4 linked regions of the Homo sapiens genome follow. The protein of the gene in region 1 purifies or fractionates together with the protein of each later gene. This does not show direct contact. Each region holds a gene or a part of one and is shown on either strand. Other genes may lie near its edges.

The links.
Region 2: the proteins of RAB31 (region 1) and AMMECR1L purify together in Homo sapiens (affinity purification with mass spectrometry; one large-scale study listed by BioGRID and IntAct). This does not show direct contact.
Region 3: the proteins of RAB31 (region 1) and TRIM4 purify together in Homo sapiens (affinity purification with mass spectrometry; 4 studies listed by BioGRID and IntAct, with this or other methods). This does not show direct contact.
Region 4: the proteins of RAB31 (region 1) and SCO1 purify together in Homo sapiens (co-immunoprecipitation; one large-scale study listed by IntAct). This does not show direct contact.

What each region holds. Positions count from the first base shown.
Region 1 is NC_000018.10:9,710,505-9,716,349, forward strand, and holds part of RAB31 (ras-related protein Rab-31), read left to right. Parts: intron 1-5,756; exon of another isoform or gene 5,757-5,845. UniProt on the Homo sapiens protein: The small GTPases Rab are key regulators of intracellular membrane trafficking, from the formation of transport vesicles to their fusion with membranes.
Region 2 is NC_000002.12:127,868,054-127,873,898, reverse strand, and holds part of AMMECR1L (AMMECR1-like protein), read left to right. Parts: coding exon 1-71; intron 72-2,539; coding exon 2,540-2,650; intron 2,651-2,970; coding exon 2,971-3,085; coding exon of another isoform or gene 3,086-3,137; intron 3,138-4,354; coding exon 4,355-4,445; intron 4,446-5,845.
Region 3 is NC_000007.14:99,892,699-99,897,857, reverse strand, and holds part of TRIM4 (E3 ubiquitin-protein ligase TRIM4), read left to right. Parts: intron 1-5,111; coding exon 5,112-5,159. UniProt on the Homo sapiens protein: E3 ubiquitin-protein ligase. Mediates 'Lys-63'-linked polyubiquitination of the innate immune receptor RIGI, this linkage doesn't lead to proteasomal degradation but seems to enhance IFN induction.
Region 4 is NC_000017.11:10,679,503-10,685,347, forward strand, and holds part of SCO1 (protein SCO1 homolog, mitochondrial), read right to left. Parts: intron 1,752-5,845; coding exon 1,617-1,751; 3' UTR 1-1,616. UniProt on the Homo sapiens protein: Copper metallochaperone essential for the maturation of cytochrome c oxidase subunit II (MT-CO2/COX2). Not required for the synthesis of MT-CO2/COX2 but plays a crucial role in stabilizing MT-CO2/COX2 during its subsequent maturation.

The sequences.
Region 1 (5,845 bases):
AGAACCATGCCAAAGCAGAGAAAGAAGAGGTTTCTGGGCAGACGGAGGCTTTGAAACATCAATCGTGGCCGGTCGCGTTGGCTCACACCTGTCATCCCAGCACTTTGGGAGGCTGAGGCGGGGGGATCATTTGAGGTCAGGAGTTCAAGACCAGCCTGGCCAACATGGTCAAACCCCGTCTCTATTAAAAATACAAAAAAAAGTTAGCTGGGCGGTAGCGGCGCATGCTTGTAATCCCAGCTACTCGGGAGGCTGAGGCAGGAGAATCGCTTGAGCCTGGGAGGTGGAGGTTGCAGTGAGCCGAAATCACGCCACTGCACTCCAGTCCGGGCGACAGAGTGAGACTCTATCTCAAAGAAAAGAAAACAAAAGAAAAGAAACATCAGTCATATCACACCACATTTGTGGCTTCCTTTTTTTTTTTTTGAGGGTGGCTGTAAGTTTCAGTTTTATTGAAATCAGAGGACATTTTATTTGAAAGACCAAATGACCTTGTTGTCCACACTGAGTAAGATTTGCCACATCCCCTCGTTTGGCTGGCTCTTTCCTGGGTGAGATGTGTGCAGCAGGCTGTGTTTCTAGCTGCTCATCCAATTAGGCTGATTCTCTGGGTGGGATAACATTGAGGGAGATCAAAACCATTTGACTGTCTTCGGTTTACTCTCTTCTCTCTCTCTCTCTCTCCTCTTTTTTGTTTTGAGACAAGGTCACATTCTGTCATCCAGGCTGGAGTGCAGTGGTGCCATCATAGCTCACTGCACCCTCCAACTCCTGGGCTCAGTGGATCCTTCTGCATCAGCCTAGGTTTATTCTCTTGATTCGAGAGACCCTGTGGATCAGTCAGTGCTAAGTCCAAAAGTCCTTTAAAAAATATATGTATATTTTTGAGATAGGGTCTCACTCTGTCACCCAGGCTGGAGTGCAATGGTGCCATCCTGGCTCACTGCAGCCTCAGCCTCCCAAGCTCAGGTGATCCTCCCACCTCAGCCTGCCAAGTAGCTGGGACCACAGGTGTGTACCACCCAGCCCAGCTAATACTTTTTATTATTTTTGTAGAGATGGGGTCTCCCTATGTTGCCCAGGCTCTTTCAACATTTTAACAGGAACCTTGGGCTCATTTGTGCTTTGCGTAGGGAGGTCTGTCTTTTCTGGGTGAAGTTTTGTGTGTGGCTGGCATTCAGCTTCCTGTTTTTTAGCCATGAGACACCTCCCTGAAGTCTTGCTATGACCAAGACCCTGACAGCCACACCTTCTTTCTGCCTGTTAGAATCACTTTCTGTCGGGTTTCCCTTATAAGGTGATAGAGAACATAGACTTCATAACAAAATATCACTCTCACTGGGAAGGCTGAGGGGTTGGTCTTTTTGTGCCTGGTACTGTGCTCAGTGGGGACTTGGGGACATGCTTCGCATTTAAGGTATAGGTTGTTTTAGGCATGGGCAGTAGGCGCTTTCAGCACAGGCTCCCTGCTGGTCACTCTTTGCTGTAGTTTCCTGCTCCATCCATGGGGTCGGAGGTCTTACCTCCTGACGTTAGAGTCATTTGCAGCAGGTGGGAGTGAAAGTGGGCCGGGTGCCAGGTCTTCTTTACCTGAACCTCTCCTGTCTTCCTGGCACATTAGGAATGTCCAAGCTTATTTCTATTGGTGAATGCTCCCACATGGGATGGATAATGGCCTGTGGAACATTCTCTGAATGCTTTGTGTTCTTGGAAAACCAAGGACTGAAGAGCGTTGGGTTTGTTTAGGTTACCTGTTATAAATTCTTGGCTCACATTTCATGTGTGGACTTTCTTGGGTTTATTCCACATGGGGACAGCCCAGCAAGCCTTTGTGAACGCCCTTTCCTGGCCTGAGCCGAGTCACCTGTGGAAGTCAGCCGTGCAGGAGGGTGTGCTTGATAGGGGGAAGCACCCTGGGCAGGACCCCATGAGTTTCCTTCTTACCAGGAAAGTGTCATTCGTCCCACTTTGTGATCTGAACTGGTATTATGAAACATGAAGCTTAAAGGCAACAAAGTATGTTAACAACAACAACAAAAAATACTTAACAAAAACAACACTGAGGCAGCAGCTGCTTCAACCCCAAAGGTGGAAAAGTTTCCCAGTATGCATTTTTAACACACATCACCATGTGGCAAGAAGCAGGAGGAAGGGAGAGAGTGGGGAGGAGGAGAAAGAGAAGGAGGGGACCTTTGTTTTGTTATCTCCTTGGGGTATTTGTGTGCGTGCACTTAAAAACTGCGTGCACTTAAAAACTGCTTCCTGATGGAATCCCAAAGAGATTTATATTTGGACTTTGGTTGTCTTGACAACAATTTAGAAATTCCTACCACTTCCTCAATAGCTGAGTGATCAGTTAAAAGAGCCGATGGCTTCCCTGCTTCTGGTAAGGAGCTTGTTGAAGCATCTTGTGATCTTTGTTGGAATGTATATGGTGGCTCATTAAAGAGCAGTCAAATACCTGGGATTTGGTGAGACATCTGGGTAATGGGTACTTCACCTATGTCCAGGGCCTTCGCATGGAAGGCCTCTTGTCTCCCCAGGGACACTAGGACGCAAGAGTAGAACAGATTTATACTCACAGTAAGGCAGATCATCAGAACTGTGCAACCTCACATGAGTTGCTATGAGCACTGTATGACAGAGTATCCAATAAGGTGATAAGAATTTGTTAGTGTTATTGTGGAAGGAAGTAATGCATAGGATAGTGGGTTGGGCTAGGTAATGATCACATTTGCTTTCCAAGTCTGAGATTCTAGTAACTTACTATTTTTTCTCCCGAGACTGGCATTTCTTGGGGAAGGGGGATGGTGGGGAGGGTTGAGTGGCTAGCCACAGCATTTATTTCTTGGCACAACTGATTCCTCTACTAAATTGAACCATTTGTGGAAAGTATGTTCAGCATTGGTGACTCTGGGTACGTTCTATGTTACACGAGAATAAATATGATATAGTGGGCTATCTTCCCAGCAGTGCCTGGCATATGGTAACACTGTGTCTTATGCACCCATCCCAGGCTGATGGAATCCATCAGGGTCCCTTTGTTCCTCCTTTGTTCAGGGTCAGCATTGCTGCTTTCATCCTCCCTCAGCTTTCAGAGCTCAGTGCATCTCTGGAGTGTGTATCAGAATCATTTGAGGAGCATTTTCAAGCTTCTCATGGTCCCTTCCCCCATCCCTTATGTCTTAATTTGAGCTGCTGTCACAAAAATACCATAGGCTGGAGGGCTTAAACAATAGACATTTAATTCTCACAGTTCTGGAGGTTGGGAAGTCTAAGACCAAGGCGCTGGCAGATCTAGTGCCTGGTGAGGGCTCGATTTCTGGTTTGCAGACAGCTGCCTTCTTGCTGTAACTTCACATGACTGAGAGAGTGCTCGGTCTCTTTCTCTTCTTATAAGGACGCCAACCCCATTCATGAAGGCTCTACCCTCACAACCTAAGCACCTCCCAAAGGCCCACCTCCTAATATCCTCACATTGGAGGTTAGGCTTCAAAATGGGAATTTTGTTGGAGGGACACAAATATTAATTCCATAGTACCTTGTCAATAGTGTTCAGGCATGTGGCCTCTACTTTTGCCCTGGCCCAATGACACTGTTTTAGTGAGTGTGATATATCCTTTAGGTCTGCTCTAAGGCCACAGCCATGAGAAAATAGGAAACTTTACATTTTAAGATGCTAGGACAGTGGTCCCCAACCTTTTTGGCACTAGGGATCAGTTTTGTGGAAGACGATTTTTCCACAGATGGGAGCAGGAGGCGGGGGATGGTTTTAGGATGAAACTGTTCCACGTCAGATCATCAGGCATTAGTTAGATTCTCATGAGGAGCATGCAACTTAGATCCCTCACATGCGCAGTTCACAACAGGGTTTGCACTCCTGTGAGAATCTAATGTCACCATTGATTTGACAGGAGGCAGAGCTCAGCTGGTAATGCTCACTCACTGTTCACCTCCTGCTGTGCAACCTGGTTCCTAACAAGCCATGGGTCAGTACCGCCCCAGGGGTTGGGGACCTCTGTGCTAGAACGCAAAAGCTTTTGAGTTCACTAATTGGAAAAGACCTTTAAAATTTAATTAAGCCTGGTAGATAACGCTTATTTGGTGTTTGCATGCCTGTGCAGATTTTACACTTTCATTTATCTTAGTTTTTATCACTTATGACATGTGTTTGAAAATGGAATAGGTATTCATTCATTCAGCCATTCACCATTTGTGGAGTGTTTCTTTTATGCTGGGAGCTGTGGGTGGCTGCATGTAGACAGGATGGCAGTGATTGTTGCCTTCCCAAAGACACGAACACACCAGCAGTGAGCTCTGTGGCATTGACTGGATTCTTATTATGGTGCTTACCATGGCCCACCATGCGGAACAGAAGTAGTGTGTTGTGATGATGAGAAATACTGACTGTCATCCCGCTTAGTAGACTTGACGGCATGGGAGGGACAGAAAGTTCTTGCTCCAGGTCTGTCTTGGGTACCTGCTGTCGCACAGTGCTGTGCTAACTCTGCTAGAGACAGAAAGTAGGTCAGGCAGGGATCTGGTCCCTGCCTGGGATGGAGAGGCTTCTGGTTGGTTCCTGTGCCACACGCACAGGAACACGGCCCTTGCTGATGGGTGTGAGGCAGGAGGTGTTGCATGTATAGTGGGATATGGTGGGAGTCAAATACAGCGGGGGCTGTGAAGTGGGGAGTTGGGAAGGTTTCTTGGAGTAGGAAGGATTTGAACAGTGCCTAAAGGGACAGGGAAGGAAAGGTGGGTGTGCACTCCAGGCCCTGGCAGGGGGCTTGGATCTCACTGTATTTTCTGGCACAGTCCCTCCCCTCCCAGCCTGCCCACTCTTCCATTGACACCCCCTACTCCCTGTCTCTCTAGCACTGGGTCTTTTATTTTTAATTCCCTTTGCCCCCTTTTTTTTTTTTTGAAAAATTTAAAACTTACACAGCAGTTGAAAGGACTATGAATGTCCCCTAGATTCAGCAGGAGTAACATTTTGTCACTTGTCCTTTGTCTCTCTCTCTCTCTTTTTTTTTTTTTTTTTTTGACATGGAGTCTCGCTCTGTCAACCAGCCTGGGGTGCAGTGGCACAATCTCGGCTCACTGCAACCTCCACCTCCTGGGTTCAAGCGATTCTCTTGCCTCAGTCTCCTGAGTAGCTGAAATCACAAGTGTGCAACACCATGCCCAGCTAATTTTTGTATTTTTTTTAGTAGAGATGGCGTTTCACCACGTTGGCCGGCTGGTCTCGAACTCCTGGCCTCAAGCAATCTGCCTGCCTTGACCTCCCAAAGTGTTGGGATTACAGGCGTGAGCCACTGTGCCCAGCCTGTCTTTCTGTTTATAAATAATACTAAACATTTTTTTTTGAACCATTTAAAAGTAAGTTGCAGACATGGTGGCACTTTACCCACAAATACTTCAGTATGTGTCTTTTAGGAAAAAGGGCATTCTCCTATGTAACCACAATACTATGCTCCCATCCCCTAAATTGAACATGAACACAGGGTATCAAACATATGGTCCATGTTCAGATGTTTCCAGTTGCCCCCAAATGTCCTTTCCAGCTATTTAAAGGGTCCAGTTAGAGATCATGTATTTCATTTGGTTGTCCTGTCTCTTTAGTCACTGTGCATCTAAAACAGTTCCCCTTCTTTTTTCCCCATGACTCTGGCATTTTTGAAGAAGCCAGGCCAGTTGTCTTGTAGGCGGTCCCAAGATCTGGAAGTGTCTGATTGTTTCCTCATTACTTCTTTCAGGTTCATTGTTTGGGTGAGAATACAACGCAGGCGATCTCGAGTGGTCTTATTTTTTAACGTGATCATGTATAATATTAAAATACTCTTTC
Region 2 (5,845 bases), on another chromosome or scaffold:
TTCGACGTACTCTACTGTCACCTCTATGGCTTCCCACAGCCACGACTTCCTAGATTCACCAATGACCCCTAGTGAGTAAATCATGTGCTGGGGGCACTGAGGAAGGCATGGTGACATCTTTCTGGGGTGATTCTCTTGAGAGGGTCTGCTACTTGGAAGTCTTTATTATCATTTGAGGAAAGGGTAATGGGAAGAGAATGATAAGAAATGTCCAGAGAATATTTAAAACATTCAGTGGATTCAGTAATGGAAGGGAGCAGTTCACATTTGGAGGAGGCTGTAGGCTTGTTGTTAAAGTAATGTTCTGGAAATCAAGTGAGTTCATTCTTGGCTCTTCTGTTGGTTCACATGGCAGTGGGTATGGCATTTAACCTCTCAAGTGGGGAAGTCACGCCATACCATTGGGGACACCCATAGTGTTGAAGTCCAGGTGAGTTGGAAGTCTGAGGGCCAGGCTGGAGACTAGGAGCTCTCATTCACTGGGATCTGCGATTTGGTTAACAGGGGTCCCCTCACTTTGTTCATGAGAAATCCCTTGGTAAACCTGTAGGGCCACTCACATCCCATCAAGAAGTCAGAATCTGCTTCAGTATTTTTAGTTCAAGATTCTTTGTTGCTTGTCCCAAGCCCTCTACTGGTCTCAGTGACTTAAATAAGCAATATGTATAAAGTAAACTGAAGAATTCCATGCTAGCATTTTCTTCTTCCTCAGAATTGGAAGCCGCTCTGAGCTGGCTTTGAAGAGCATTGCTGTTTTTTTATTTTTGTTTTGGGGGTATGCTTTTGGAGTGTTCATTGATATGAGATTATTCATTCCTCAGTTGTTGATTGCCATACGGAGACTACAAAACCTTGGCTGGGGCATGGAGAGGGTGTGAAGAAAAGGAGCCTCTTCCCTTGGGAGGCCTGTCAGGTTGGCAAATCACACACGCACAGAGCTAAGGGGAAGTTGTTCTCTGTGAGTGTGTCAGAGGAGAGGAAACCTGGAGGGAAGTGTGCTCGGTTTTTTGGGAACCGTCACCCTGGGGTAACATGGTTAGAAAACACCTGACTGAGCAGGTGGAGATCCCAAGCCTGAGTGAGATCCAGGGTGCCCCACGTAAGAGAGAGATGCAGTTTGGAAGAACAGGTGATGATGTGGGTGTTTAGGGAAGGTTTAGACTGTTGTATTCAAGGCTTTGCATTTCCATCCTGCAGGCAATGGAGGCCTTGTCTTGAAGGATTTTTCAGTAGGCTTTGGGGCTGCAGCTTTGGCTGGTGCTGTGCAGGTGCTTTATTGGGAGGAAAAGATGGCTAGATGGGACAGCTGCTGTGGGGACCTTTGTGACAGTGATCAAAGCAGATAACTTTGAAAACTTAAGTTGCCTCTAGAAATGATTAACTCAATCTAAGAGGTAAGGACATTAGAGTGTGGAGGGATTTCAGGAAGAGGGAACAGGCCTTGAAACCTCTTGCTAAAAAATCTGTCACTGTCAATCTGATATAGCCTTAATGAAGTGTGACTTTGGCCTAGAAACAGAAAATGGCAACTCAGCTAATAAAAAGGTTCCTTGGCTGGGCGCGGTGGCTCATGCCTGTAATCTGTAATCTCTCAGCACTTCGGGAGGCTGAGGTGGGAGGATCGCTTGAGCCCAGGAGTTCAAGATTAGCCTGGGCAACATAGTGAGGCCCCCCTCTATTTTTTTTTAATCTTTTTTTTTTTTTTTCTTTTTGAGACAGAGTCTCAGTCTTGTCGAGGCTGGAGTGCAGTGGCACAATCTCGGTTCACTGCAACCTCTGCCTTTCAGGATCAAGTGATTCTCCCACCTCAGCCTCCCGAGTAGCTGAGATTACAGGAGCCTGCCACCACGCCCAGCCAATTTTTATATTTCTAGTAGAGGCGGGGTTTCGCCATGATGACCAGGCTGGTCTAGAACTCCTTACCTCAAGTGATCCGCCCACCTTGGCCTCCCAAAGTGCTGGGATTACAGGCATGAGCCACTGCACCCGGCCTTTTTAAATCTTTTTTTAAAAATTAAAAAATGTTTTTTGAGGGAACTTTTTTTTCTGAAAATTTGTGAGTGGAAATATTTGTAGTTGTCAGGGGCAGACATGATCATGGAAGCAACATGGGTTTGCAGATGAACGGGGCTGTGCAGGTGAGGCGTGTCATCATGAAAGACGGAGCGGGGGAGCATGGCTACCTGGATAAATAGACTTAGGGAAGAGGAAACTGGAGAATTCGAAGGAAAAGTTGAGTCTTGGGCAGAGAAAGAGGAAAGTAGCATGTAAATTTGGCGGCAAAGTGAATTAAAGCTGTCAGCATGGAACATGGGAACCACTACACGGAGCCTTTCCTTATGCTGCCTTGTAGGTTTCCCGTTTCCAGCCAGGGGCTGTGCCGTTTTCAGAAAGGCAGAGAGTCCTTCGGGTAGCTGGCAAGTCCAAAAACAGGGATTTTTGGCAATAACAGAAATGAATAGGGACAAAGCCAAAAGGTTTTGTTCTTATCCATGATTAATTTGGGGCTGGAGAATGTTTTGTGTTTTGCTTTTTTTAGTCCGCTCTTTGTGACGTGGAAGACAGGGCGGGACAAGCGGCTTCGTGGCTGCATTGGGACCTTCTCAGCCATGAATCTTCATTCAGGACTCAGGGAATACACGTTAACCAGGTAATGACACCAGACATTAAGAACTGTAGATAAATTGGCTAGAATCAGAAATAGCTGCCTGACTTTATTTCTTCTAAGTGATGTACGTTGAGCTTTCTCTTTTTGGTAATCAGGAAATGTAAGGGGCTTAATCTGGTGAGTCAGTTATCAGTTCAAGTACAGACAGTTAATAGCATCGAGTTGTTTTTAACATGTTAGTGTTGATGAACAATAGATACTCTCTGCATAGCTCAAGATTCATAAATATGTGGGCTCTATGGCACCTGATATTGGCTCCTGACTCCAGAGCAGCCTTACCTATGTTTTCTGTCCCCCTCCAGTGCACTTAAGGACAGCCGATTTCCCCCCCTGACCCGAGAGGAGCTGCCTAAACTTTTCTGCTCTGTCTCCCTCCTTACTAACTTTGAGGATGCCAGTGATTACCTGGACTGGGAGGTGAGAACAGCCGCATTTGGAACTCTGCATCTCTCGTTGCATTTGGGTTCGGGTTAGTACATGGCAATGTATCTCCTTCATTGAGAGAAAGGGTATAAGAATGTGAAGGCTGAGTTTGGAACCAATTGTGGGCAACATAGGTGACAGAAGAGGTGCTGCTATACCAGGAGTAGGCAGAAGTGTCAGTGGAAAGGCTCGCTTCTCCTGATTCTCCCTAGTCTGCTTGGTTTACATCCTTCTCCCATGTCTAATAAGAGATAATGGGGTAAAAGAAAATATTCCAGATCCTTCTTGGCAAGCCCTGGAGTAAAAGTTTTTGTTTGCTTGTTTTTTTTTTTGAGATGGAATTTCGTTCTTGTTCCCCAGGCTGGAGTGCAGTGACGTGATCTCGGCTTACTGCAACCTCTGCCTCCCGAGTTCAAGGGATTCTCCTGCCTCAGTGTCCCAAGTAGCTGGGATTACAGGTGCCCACCACCATGCCCAGCTATTTTTTTTTTTTTTGAGACAGAGTCTCGCTCTGTCGCCAGGCTGGAGTGCAGTGGTGCAATCTCAGCTCACTGCAACCTCCACCCCTGGGTTCAAGTGATTCTTCTGCCTCAGCTTCCTGAGTAGCTGGGACTACAGTCGCGTGCCACCACACCCAGCTAATTTTTGTATTTTTAGTAGAGATGGGGTTTCACCGTGTTAGCCAGGATGGTCTCAATCTCTTGACCTCGTGATCCACCTGCCTTGGACTCCCAAAGTGCTGGGATTATAGGCGTGAGCCACCATGCCCAGCCATTTGTATTTTTTTAGTAGAGACAGGGTTTCACCATGTTGGCCAGCCTGGTCTCAAACTCCTGACGGCCTTGGCCTCCCAAATTGTTGGGATTACAGGCATGAGCCACCGCGCCTGGCCAAATAAAAGTTTTTATTAGGAATCAGATGTGAAGGATCATGACCCCAGATAAAAACCTTGTGGCATGTTTATTTAATGGAATAGGGTCAAGGAACATATTCACAATTCCTGGATGAATTACTTAAAGAATGCATTTCTCCTACCTTCATATTCTCAGAGTTGGCTGCACATACTCTCGACCCTTCCCTAAAAGCAGAACTTTCTTTGGCCTCTATACCTCCTGAGATAGAATTAGTCATGAAATGCGAGAAGGTCTCCCTTTTCCAGGCCTGTGTTAAGCTGGTCAGGGAACAATGTTGATTTATATGTGGGGACTGAAGTTCCATTAGAGTAAGTAAATGCCATTTACTTGGTTGTACTTTTTTCTATAGGTAGGGGTCCATGGGATTCGAATTGAATTCATTAATGAAAAAGGTGTCAAACGCACAGCCACATATTTACCTGAGGTTGCTAAGGAACAAGGTGAGTTGGATGAATGGGATTTTAATGACAAGTATCATTCACAGTGGTGCCAGTTAAAGGGCAAGAAAGTGAAGTGTGTCATCTTGCAGCCCAACTGCAGCTGAGAATGAGGGCCTTTCTGCCTCTTAATACCTGTCAAATTCCTATAGAACCAAGGGTAAACTTCCAAAAAGGTTTAGGAGCTGGGAAAAGCAAAAGGGTAAATCGTTCACTTACTCGCCTGATATTTCAAACACTTCTTTTCAATGAATAGTTTTATTTCTTAGCCCCTTAAACTACAGTGGCAATTGTAGCAAAATACCACCAATCAACCTGACCATATTGTAGAATTCAGTAGGTACCGAACTTTGGATCACAAATCATTAAACAATATTATACATGGCAAAGGGTGTAAACATAGTCCCTACTGTTTTTTAAAGAACTCAGTAGTCGGCCAGGCGTGGTGGCTTACTCCTATAATCCCAGCATTTTGGGAGGCCAAGGTGGGCGGATCACAAGGTCAAGAGATTGAGACCATCCTGGCCAGCATGGTGAAACCCCGTCTCTACTAAAAATATAAAAATTAGCTGGGCATGGTGGTGCATGCCTGTAGACCCAGCTACTCAGGAGGCTGAGGCAGGAGAATCACTTGAACCCAGGAGGCAGAGGTTGCAGTGAGCCAAGATCGTGCCATTACACTCCAGCCTGGTGACAGAGCGAGCCTCCATCTCCAAAAAAAAAAAAACTCAGTAGCCTATAAGTTCTTCTGATGGGGACGTTAAAGGTAGGGTGGATCGAGCAGATTTTGTCTTTAAAAGAATATCTAGAAGGGTACCTTTACATGTTGCTTGTGCATTCTGTGATACGTAGTGCAGTTTTCCTTCTTTCTTGGAATTAGTCTGATTTTGAAAATAATATGTGAAACACAGTATTTGTTGGGTATGAGCCTAGAATAGAGAAAAAATACCCGGTGAAGTGTATATCATGAGCAAACATGGAAAACGATTGCCTGGTTGGTTTTTATTTTGCTTGTGCTTAAACTTTTTCAAGAGCAGTGTATATGTGGCATAATAGCAAACCTTTTAGCCACCTCTTTTAGGTCATAAACCTAACACACTCTGTACAAGGAGGCATACCATGTTTTGTAATGGGGAGGTGTAAATAATAACTTAAGTAAATAATTAAATTACTTTTGCCATTTGAAAGTTGGTTGGAAAAATAAAAACTTCGGAGCACCTAGCATAGTAATTTAGGGGATTTTCTTTGGTTTTTCAATTTGATGAAGTTGGTTTTATCTGTTAAGAATGAGGCTGGGCACGTTTGCTCACATCTGTGATCCCAGCACTTTGGGAGGGCAAGGTAGGTGGATACTGGAGCCCAGGAGTTCAAGACTAGTCTGGTGGCGAAACCTCGTCTCTACA
Region 3 (5,159 bases), on another chromosome or scaffold:
AGAGCACCACCCCTGGCAGTGGCCTGGCGCCTGGTTTATAATACAAAGTGGATTGGGCCCTTTGCAATGCTTTGCAAGTGGCCAGAGTAAGACAGTGGGGGGTATTATAATGTTCTATAAGAGGATGATTGTCCCCTTGCACAAGGAAGACTGGGATTCATTATTTTGGAAATACAGGGGGTTGGGGAGTAGGATGTAAAATAGGTGTGACCTGTATATTCTTTTCTAGGCCTTTCCCCCATGGAGTGCAAGAACCGACTTGAGAAATCTTTTGTTCTTTTTTTTAGTTGCTACATAATAATTTTACATATTTATGAGGTACAGTGTGATGTTTCAATACATGTATACAGTGCATAATGATAAAATCAGGGTAATTAGCATATTCATCACCTCAAACATTTATCATTATCTGCATCGGGAACATTCAAAATCCATTTCTACTAAGTGGGAGAGTGTAAAATCCCAGGGAGGGTGGGATCGACTGTCTCCCACTCTGTTTGAACTTACTTCCCAGCTTCACCATTTCCACAGCGGTATAATCCTGCATTGTGGTGGTCTGCCTTCTTTCAGGTGGAGGCAAGTCTTGTAGGGCTACCCTCTGTGGGTGTGGTTGGTCTTCTTTTATCTTGGTAGTGACCATCAGACATGCTGAGAGGATGGGAACCTCTATGGACTCATCCCAGTCCTCATCCTCCCTGCCACTAGATCTCTTCACGGGGTCCCAGGACTTAGGGTTCCAGGACAATTTAGTCATGATAGTCCTAACTCCATGTGGCAGTCAGTGACCCTTCAAACAGGCTATGCAACAAACCAGTGTCTCCATTTTGTCATCCTGTTCCCACAGGTGGGACAGAAATTAGCCTGAGCTAATATCTCCCTAGTTGCAGCTCATCTTGTAAGTGGTACACCCTTGCCTGTGCCACAAGCTCAACCTTGGGGGCTGCTCTAAGCACAGTCAGGACTGGCCGGCCAACTGCAGCTGCCACAGCTTGGGCATTTGACTTTCCCTTAGTTGGATCCACCCCCTGCAGCAGTTCTTCCAGAACTTTTGGCATTTTGGGGGTATCCCCATACTCACCTGGTGGGCCCCACCCATCAAGGATAGTGGCTATTGGGCCCCACATACATGTGGACAACCAGCCCAGGATTTCCACCGTGGATTCTCCCCTGATCCCATTGTCTTGGCACTCGTGGAATTTTCTCCAACCTCCTGCTGGGCTAATTGTTGTGCTAGACCCCTATTGATTTCAGTACGGATGGCACTGTGTCTGAGAGGTGGAAGAAACCTGGAGCCGGTGAATGAGACATAGGATTTATTGAGGACTTATATGCTGGGTGGTCCAGGAGCAGTGGGCTGGACACGAAAACCAGTTGCTACTGTTTGTAAAAAGCATGCAGATTATATAGCATTTTCACTTAGCAACCTGCTCCTAACAACCTCCATTTAACCCGAATCAAAGGGCCTTGATCCTCTGTACAGCCTGCATTCCAAGAATGGGCCAGAGGTTCAGATGTTCAGATGTCCTTCCTAGAAAAGGAGCAGATCTCTGAGTTGGCCACTCCCACATTTCTTAGCTTGGAAGTGTGAACCCACATTCTACTTGGACCATAGGGTCATTGTTAGGGTATGCTTGAGTTATTGCTGTCAGGTGCATCTGCCATACGATACCATAAACCTTAAACCACTAAAATAAAAGAGATGTAGCTAGTCAATAAAAGGAAATAAAGTGGAATTATAAAAAAAGATTAATAAAAAATAAGGCAGAAAAAGAAGAAAACATATAGGACAAATAGAAAACAGCAAAATAATAGACACAAATCTAATCATACTAATAATCACATTAACTATAAATGGTCTGCATGCGCTAATCAAAAGGCAGAAGTTGGTTGGATTGGCTAAAAAAAAAAAATAAGACCCAATTTTTTACTGGAAAAGAAACACATTAAATATGAAGAACCATATACGTTTAAAGCAAAAGAATGGAAAAAGATATGTTAATAGATCTGGAGTGGGTATATTAGTATCAAAGTAGATTTCTGAGCAAAGGATATTACCAGAGATAAAGAATGTTATATCCTAATGATAAAGTGGTCAGTTCGTCAAGAGAATGTAAGTTCTAAACATTTCTGCACTTAACAGTGCTTCAAACATATTAAGCAAAAACTAATAGAGCTGCAAGAAGAAATACACAAATTCACAATTACGTTTGCAGTTTTCAGTACCTTTTAATAATTTTTAGAATAATTAGGCAATAAATCAGCAGGGATATAGTAGACTTGAATAATATTATCAATCAACTTGATCCCATTATTTATAGAACACTCTACCCAACAGCTATATACTACATATTTTTTTCAGTGTACGTGAAACATTTTCCAAGATAGACTAAGCTGGCTGTAAAGCAAGTGTCAAATTCAAAGGATTCCGATCATTCAGAGTATGTTCTCTGATCACAATGGAATTGATAGAAATCAGTATCAAAATATCCTTAGAAACCCCCCTAAATATCAAGAATCTAAATAATAGACTTTTTAGTAACCCTTGAATTAAAGAAGAAATCAAAAGGCAAATTAGGAAGTAGTTTGAATGGAATGAAAAGGAAAAGACAATATACCAGAATTTGTGGGATGCACCTAAAGCAAAACTTAAAGAAAAGTGTATAGTGCTATATTGGAAAGAAGAAACTTCTCAAATCACTGACCTCAGCTTCCACCTTAAGACACTAGAGAAAGAGGAGCAAGTAAAGCCCAAAGTAAACAGAAGAATGGAAATAATAAAAATCAGAGCAGAAATCATTGCAGTGAAATACAGAAAGCCAACAGAAACCAATGAAACCAAAAGCTGGTCCTTTGAGAATTTCAGTAAAATTGACACACCTTTAATCAAAATGATCAGAAAAAAAGAAAACACACATTACTAATGTCAGAAATGAGAAAGGTGACATCATTACAGATTCTGCAGATATTAAAAGGATAATAGAATATTAAGAGCAACTTTTTGCCAATAAACTTGACAATATAGATGAAATGGATGAAGTCCTTAAAAGACACAAATTACAAAAGCTGACTCATGAAGATAGAGATAACTGGAATAATCTTATTTCTATGAAAGAAATTGCTATTAGAAACCTTCCAAATGGCTTTCGTTTTGTTTCTTTTCTTTCTTTTCTTTTCTTTTTTTTTTTGGGGGGGGGATGGAGTCTTGGTCTGTTGCCTAGGCTGGGGCGCAGTGGTGCAATCTCAGCTTACTGCAACCTCCACCTCCCAGGTTCAAGTGATTCTCCTGCCTCAGCCTCCCAAGTAGCTGGGACTGCAGGTGCGCGCCACCATGCCTGGCTAATTTTTGTATTTTTTTTTAGTAGAGATGGGGTTTCACCATGTTGGTCAGGCTGGTCTTGAACTCCTGACCTCGTAATCCACTGCCTTGGCCTCCCAAAGCATTGGGATTACAGGCATGAGCCACCGCGCCTGGTCCCCAGATGATTTTCTTGGTGAAACATTTCACCAAACATTTAAGAAATAAATGCCAATTCTTCAAGAACTCCTATTGAAAATTGATGAAGAGGGAATATTTCCCAATTCTTTCTGTGAGGCCTGTATTACCATGATGCCAAAATCAGACAAAGACGTCACAAGAGAAAAGAATTATACATCAATGTCTCTCATGAACATAGATACCTAAATTCTCAGAAAACTTTAGCAAATTGAATCCAACAATATATTAAAAGGATAATATGTAATAATCACAACCAATTTATATATCCTTTGGTATACAAAAAGGATAATGTATAATAATCACAATATGTGAGATTTATCCCAGAAGAGCATAGTTGGTTTAATATTTGAAAATCGATGTAGTTTATATCACTAAAGTAAAAAAAAAAAAAAAAGGAAAACCATGTGATTGTCTCAGTGGAAGCAGGAAAAGCATTTGTCAAACTCTAGCATACATTCCTGATTTTTTTTAAAAAAAGTCCTCAAACTCAAGAGACATGGAGAGTTAGAGGGAAGGGAATTTGGAGTCAGGGAGGCCAGGGAGGACATTATTAACACATTGAGTGACACTGGAGATTGGAGTAAAGGCAGTGGCAATGGGAGTGGAGGGGAGGAAAAGAACCTGAGTGACAAATTTCAGAGGTAGAATTGGTAGGACTTGGTGACTAACTAGCTATTGAAGGTTAGAGGAAAGAGTCGAAAATAAAGATTTAAAAGCATGAGTGTTCAGGTGGAGGGGACTCTGACACCTTAGAGAACATAGAAGGCAAGATGTCTGCATATGAAGTGGATTAGTCCCGAGAGTATAGAAGGGGGTGTAAGTAAGATAATTAGTTCAGTTTTGAATGATCTGTGGGGAGATTTGTGGAGATGCCCCATAAACAACTGGAACCCGTGAAAAGAGACCTCATTATTCTGTCCTATGTGACACCTGTGTGTATCTAGCCAAAGAACCAGCTAGTCGGCAGCCTTGGTTCTAGTTTTGATTCAACGTGAGAATTTGTTAATATCTCTCCAAATTTTAGGCTGTTTGTGAAAACTTGGGGCATGAAATAATTAGATCCCCAGTTTCTAGAGGTTAGTCTTTTTTTTTTTAAAGATAGAATCTTGCTCTGTCACCCAGGCTGGAGTGCAGTGGCACGATCTCGGGTCACTACAACCTCCGCCTTCTGGGTTTAAGTGATTCTTCTGCCTCAGCCTCCCCAGTAACTGGGATTACAGGTGCCCACCATCATGCCGGGCCAGTTTTTTTGTTTGTTTGTTTTTTGGTATTTTCAGTAGAGACGGGGTTTCGCCATGTTGGCCAGGCTGGTCTCACTCTCGTGACCTCCAGTGATCTCCCTGCCTCAGCCTCCCAAAGTGCTGGGATTACAGGCATGAGTCACTGCGCCTGGTCTAGGGCTTAGTCTTTTAGAGCAGAAGGGAAATGAGGACTTCAGGTTGCTAAAGGCCATGCTGTGGCCTGCTAGGCCTGGCTGAGGATCAGTTGGGCAGCAGTGGAGTCATGAGTGTTTGTTAGGAGGAGAAAGATGAAACTGATGCTGGAAAAGATGGGCATTTCTGGGGAAGGGTTGATGATAAGCTGCTGCACTACTTAGCTCTCATTTTCTCCACAGTGGCTGTAAACCTAGCTGAAGACACAGCTCATCCCAAACTCGTCTTCT
Region 4 (5,845 bases), on another chromosome or scaffold:
GTGCGTGTAGAAACATATCATGTAAAAAGAATCTGTTGTCTATCTAGGCATTATATTTGTTGCATCTTAGGATTTACTGAAAAACTTTTGGAGAACTTTGCCCCTAGGGCAGCAGCTTCTGGCAGAAAAAGGCCAAACCCAGGATTCTAGGGCAGTTAAATTTAGAAACAAAAGCCAAGATTCATTCTATCACTCAATAATCATTTTCTTCAATGGCTGACACACCAAAAGAAGGGTCAAATTTATTTATTTTTAAATTCATTTTAATTTCTGTATCTCTACATAGATATATCTAGAGGGTCTCACTCTGTTGCCCAGGCTGGAATGCAGTGGTGTGATTATAGCTCACTGAAGCCTTGAATTCCTGGGCTCAAGTGATACTCCATTTCAGTCTCCTGAGTAGCCAGGACTACAGGCATGTGCCACCATGCCAAAAAAATCTTCTGTAGAGATGGGGGCGGGGGGGGGGGGTCTCACTATGTTGCCCAGGCTTGTCTTGAATACCTAACCTCTAGCAATCCTCAGGCCCTGGCCTCCCAAAGTTTTGGGATTATAGGCATTAGCCATTGTGCCAGGCAAGTTATTTCCCCAAAAAACACTTTCTTAAGGGATGGTCCCAGTCCGCCAGCATCCGAGTCACCTGGGGTATCTGTCATGGAAGCAGGTCTCTGCATCATACTGCAGATTCAGTGAATTCAGCTCTGGGTCTGGGGAACTGCACTTCAGCAAGCGTCCCACCCACCTGCCCGCTGGAGCCTGTGGGTCTCTTTCCTGAGAACTGTGTGCAGCCATCTATGTACCCACTCATCACCCATGAAAAAGATCACGCTTGTCTGAACAGCAAAACTGAGTATGTTTACTTTACACAAAGTACAATCCAGTATATGCAGAAAGGTACTCAGCATCACACTCGTGATCAATATCCTCTTATTTCCATTTGGTATGTCACTGAAAACCTGGCACACCACTTAGCTAAAAATCACATAAAAGAACCCCTAGAGAAATCAAACTGATGTTTTTTTTCCCCCAAACAATAGATTTCCTCTTCATTAGTCAAATCTGATAGTGATATTCATTAATAAGGAAAACTAAAGTTTTCAAGCATCAACTCTGAATGGCAGAGACCCTAATCTGACTGTTATTAGCCACCAAGAACTCAGAAGAGCAAAGAACTCAAGAAGAGGCAAGCAAGAGCACTATGGAAATTATATTCTTTTCTGTGAAATTCAGTCCCACAGCTATTTGAGCAAGGGCCCAAGACGATGGAGAGGCGGCAAAGCTGCTGGGAGGGCCTGTTCGCAGGCAGGAATGCACTGGCTGTGCCTCGCCCCGCCATGTCCTTCCACAGGTGGGCTCTTCACTGGCTTCACTTCAGCTTGATCCTCTGGTCTCCCCACAGCTTCCTGGGAGACTTTGGGTTGTAATCTTTACAGTTCCAAGAATCAATTTTGGTTGAACGCAAGGGTAACATCCCCATCCAAAACAGAAATGTTCTCATGGTATGAAGGCCATTCTGTAGAGTGCACGTATATATGTTTATATTTATATAGGCTCCTATGCGAGACAGTTTCCTTCCTCTTAGCAAGAGAATACTGCATCCAGCAACACTGCTTTGGCTAGCTCTTTTTTCTGTATGGCCTCATGTGTGTGGCAATTGAAGCAGCTATTTCTCCCTTCCTCTTGTTCTGGCCAAAATAATCTAGAAACTCACCATCTGGTCCAATCAAGTACATTATTATTGTGTGATCCACCTGCAGAGAAAAGGGGGGAGAGTGTGACAAAGATTACCAAAATAAGCTGCTTATTTTACTGAATGTATGCTGCAAGATAAGAGAACTTTACATTAATGCTTAAATAACCTTTACAGCATCTATTATTTATGGAATAGGCTTAAGTCTATCATAGCAAATTCCTAACAAAAATTGTCTAAAATCTTTTGTGTCCTAAACATCTGCACTGGTTATTGCTTGTCACATCAGCTAGAACCTGAAATTCTTTTGGTTTAATCCTTAACATATTTACCCACACACTCTGAGAAAAGAATTCACCTTCTAAGAAATAGCTGCTGCAGGCTTTCATAAAGCAGTCAATGTTTGTGGAATAGCAATGCTTGTTGAAAAATACCTTCATTTTTGAGTAAGATATCTCCTCAGACCCTAAACATGTTACAAACAGACATCACATGGAATTAAGTGTTGGTGAAAAACTGCTTTCTTTAGTAAGTTCTTGGGTTTATTCATGTTTTAGAAAGAACTGGTTGTCATTCATTACTGCCAAAATTCTGCTTACCACGCTTTATGAGAAGAAATCAGAAAACTAATCATTAGTTTAAATAATCTATAAATTTGAACAATATTTAGTTTTAATATTAGTAATTCAAACAGAAACAGGAAAAGAAACATTTTTCTCCCCAAGGAAATTTTTGTCTCCTCCACTGAATAATCCTATCTGAAATCAATCCATCACCTGGAAAGCAAATCCTCGGGAGCATAAATGCTGCCCCCCTAACCAGAGAGTCATCGTAAACTCAGCATCCATTTTCCCAGCAAAGTCCTAAAATGGTCCCAGCTCTAACTTTAACTTAGATTAGTCATCAGATTTTTTAGTTAGACACTTCCATAAAATCCAATTTTAAGTGAGATTTGGCACTTAGAGTCCTTGGAATTTATTGCAGGCTTGACTGCTATTTGGCAAGACAAAGAAAGACAGGAATGTGACTACAAATACCAAACTGGAGACACCTCCCAAACATACCCCAGCACGCACTATATGTCTGTGAGGGTATTATTTTTTATACACACATTCTTAAGATAGCAAATGGAAAGAGCACTTGCCTACCCACATAAGGAAAGAATGTACACCAAAAGAGCGCCAACAACTGGATTCCAAGTGCTGTGGGATAGTTCACCGCAGGAGCAAGACGGGGGGCTACGTTTCTCCACATATTTGATACAGAAATCAGAATTAAGTCTCCAGTTCTCTCTTCAAGCCTTACTCTGTAGCTTACATCACTCTTTCTCCCTATTTCTTCCTTTTCTCTATTCTCTGTTAAAAAAAACAAACTACAGTATGTGGGACTTATTTTCTGAGTGTTCTTAATATAAATTACCTTGTAGTACACAACAAAAATATTATTTTATCTGTATCTGTCGAACTTGTCAGAGGTCACTCCTCAATATTCCTTTGGGTTGTGACAGAGCACATTGACATTTATTCTAATACAGAGGTCTACAGAGGTCTTCCAAGTTCTAGTACTTCCTTGTATAGAAAAAGGACACTAGCATTAACTGACAAATTCTTTCACATGTCATCTTAAGCCATGAAACAGGTATTCTCCTCCTCTTCAAATGATATCACAGGCTGGAGAGAGTAAATTATATAATTGGTAAGTGCCAGGCCTAACTTTAAAACCTAGAATCTGTCCAGTTTCAAAGTCCACAAACTTTTATCACCACGTTGCCTCTAGCTCCAATTCTAATGGAGAGCAGCAACTCAGTTTTTCTAGTGTGCAAGTTACGTTTTAGTGTGAATTATTTTTTGAAAAGGTAATATATGCACATAGAAAACGAATATCCAGTTAATGTATACAATGAAAATGTCCCTCCCCCTCTTCACACCCAGAGTGCCTCAGTTCCCCTTAGAGTGAACCAATGCCATCAGTTCCTTCTGTATCCTTCCGAAGAAATTCTCTGCATCTACTATGTGTATATATCCACTACCACTTATTTTTTTTATACACAAGTAACAATATATTCTACAGTACTTGCTTTCTCATTTAACAATATATTGGACATTGTTCTACGTTAGATTATACACAGTAGTTAAAAAATGGTTACTGGATTTTCAGTTTTTTCTCTTTAAAAACAATGCCATAGGGTATATTTATAGGATAAAGTCCAAAAAGTAGAATCTCTTGCATAAAAAGTATATAACTTTAAATGTGAGAAATACTGTTAAACTGCCCTCTGAAGAGGGTGTATGAGTTTAATTCCTATCAACAATGCATGAGTGTGCCTGCTGTTCCAAATTCACTCCTGCAGTTTATTTCCTGCTTTTCCAATTTCGACAATATATTTTCAGATTTTCTGACCACTGCTGAGCCAAGAGAAAAATGTTACCTCATTATACAATTCACATTTCTTTTATTATGAAACTGCACATTTAGGTTTGAAAGCTATTTGTATTCTTTTTTCAAAAGTATTTTCTAACTAATATCTATATAATAATATAGTATTATATATATATAATACAATAATGTGCAGATCCAGCTTTCTATGGAATTCCAAATATTTGGTATACCCAGTTCGATCACTCTGAAGAGTCCACTCAAAAGCCAGAAGCTTGCCTGTTGTTGCTGTCGTTTGGGATTAAGAAAACTTCATTCCATTACATCTCAACATTAACCTTAAAGGTACCCCCTTACTTCCTGCAGGTCCTTAAATGATAACAGAAGTTTCCCAAACCATCCTATGGATGAAAATCTGTGACCTCAAGGGACTGAAGTCATACTAATGAAAAACCTAAGAAGCTGAAGAATGTCTCCCCCTATTGGATGATTTAGCAAATGTACAGCATGAATTCCTCATCGAATCTCATCAAAAGTCAAATTCTTATGGCAGTAGGCCAGTATTTCTCAAAATGGGGCCAAAGATACATTCTACAAGGTCCAAGAAGTTTCCATAAGACTTACATATTTTTGTTTTCATTTGTAATTAAAAACATTAATATCCATATTCTGGATTATCTGTGTTGTGAGTATAAATTTCAGTGCCCAGGCTTGTGTTTGCTCCATGATCTCACTGGCACCTAGCTGCCCACTGCTGTTACAGGCAGACATGAATATGATACATTCTTGCCAAATCAACACTAACCAGGCAAGGCAGGCTACACGATTAAAGGTTTCAAAGTATTTTAAATAGAAAATGCAGAGGGGCAGTTGAGTAGAGTTGGGTATGTGATAGCAGTCTGACCAAAACCCCCTCCCTTCTTGCCCTGAGCAGCACTTTGGTTTCAGCAAAATCTCTTGTCAATGTAACTGAATGTTTTCAATTTAAGTTTTGCAGGCTGTTTGGGTTTATTTGTACAACTGCTTTCTGATTTGACTTTCTGACTCTGAGTTATGAGTTCTAAGCATCAAGACTATGGAGTGTTACCTAGTTTAGGACTGTATACATTTAAACAATTTAATATAACTCATTTAATGCTGGAAATCAGACTGATGAGCTCATCTATTCCTGCTGTCATCATCGGATAAACTCAAAACCAGTTAATACAACTCTCTATAAAGACAGAAGTCCGGAAAGTCCTTTTCCTATGGTTTCCTCTTTTGGCCACTGTGGCTCTCTGCTCTTCTCTCATTCTGCTAGAGAAGCAGCAAGAGGAAAACAGAGGAGGGTCCCTCTACTTTCCTTACAATTAAGGCTTAAAGAAAAGTGCTCATTTTTCTCATCTTTTACTCCAAGGAATCCAAGTTTCCCTAATTCTACGAGGCACCACATCTGGAAGACAGGATTACTGTGTAGGCTTAATTAAGGCAAACAGGCCAGAACCTTGCTTTTAATTCAGGCTGTAGGCTCCAGGGGCACACACGTTCCAGGTTCAAAGGGACAAAGAAATCATAGTTGGCTGTTGAGACAAAGCACTGCAGTGAGACATCCCATCCCCTCTGCATCTCAACTCTTGGGATGGGCCATGGGGAGCTGCTGGATCAGTGACTCAGGGTCTTGGCCATCTTTCTTTCTACAAAGACAGCTTCACAGCTAGAAAGGCTCTTAGGATTACTCTGCCCAAACAATATTATAGAAAAAACAGAGTATGACAACTAAGAAAAATACTGAAATAATGC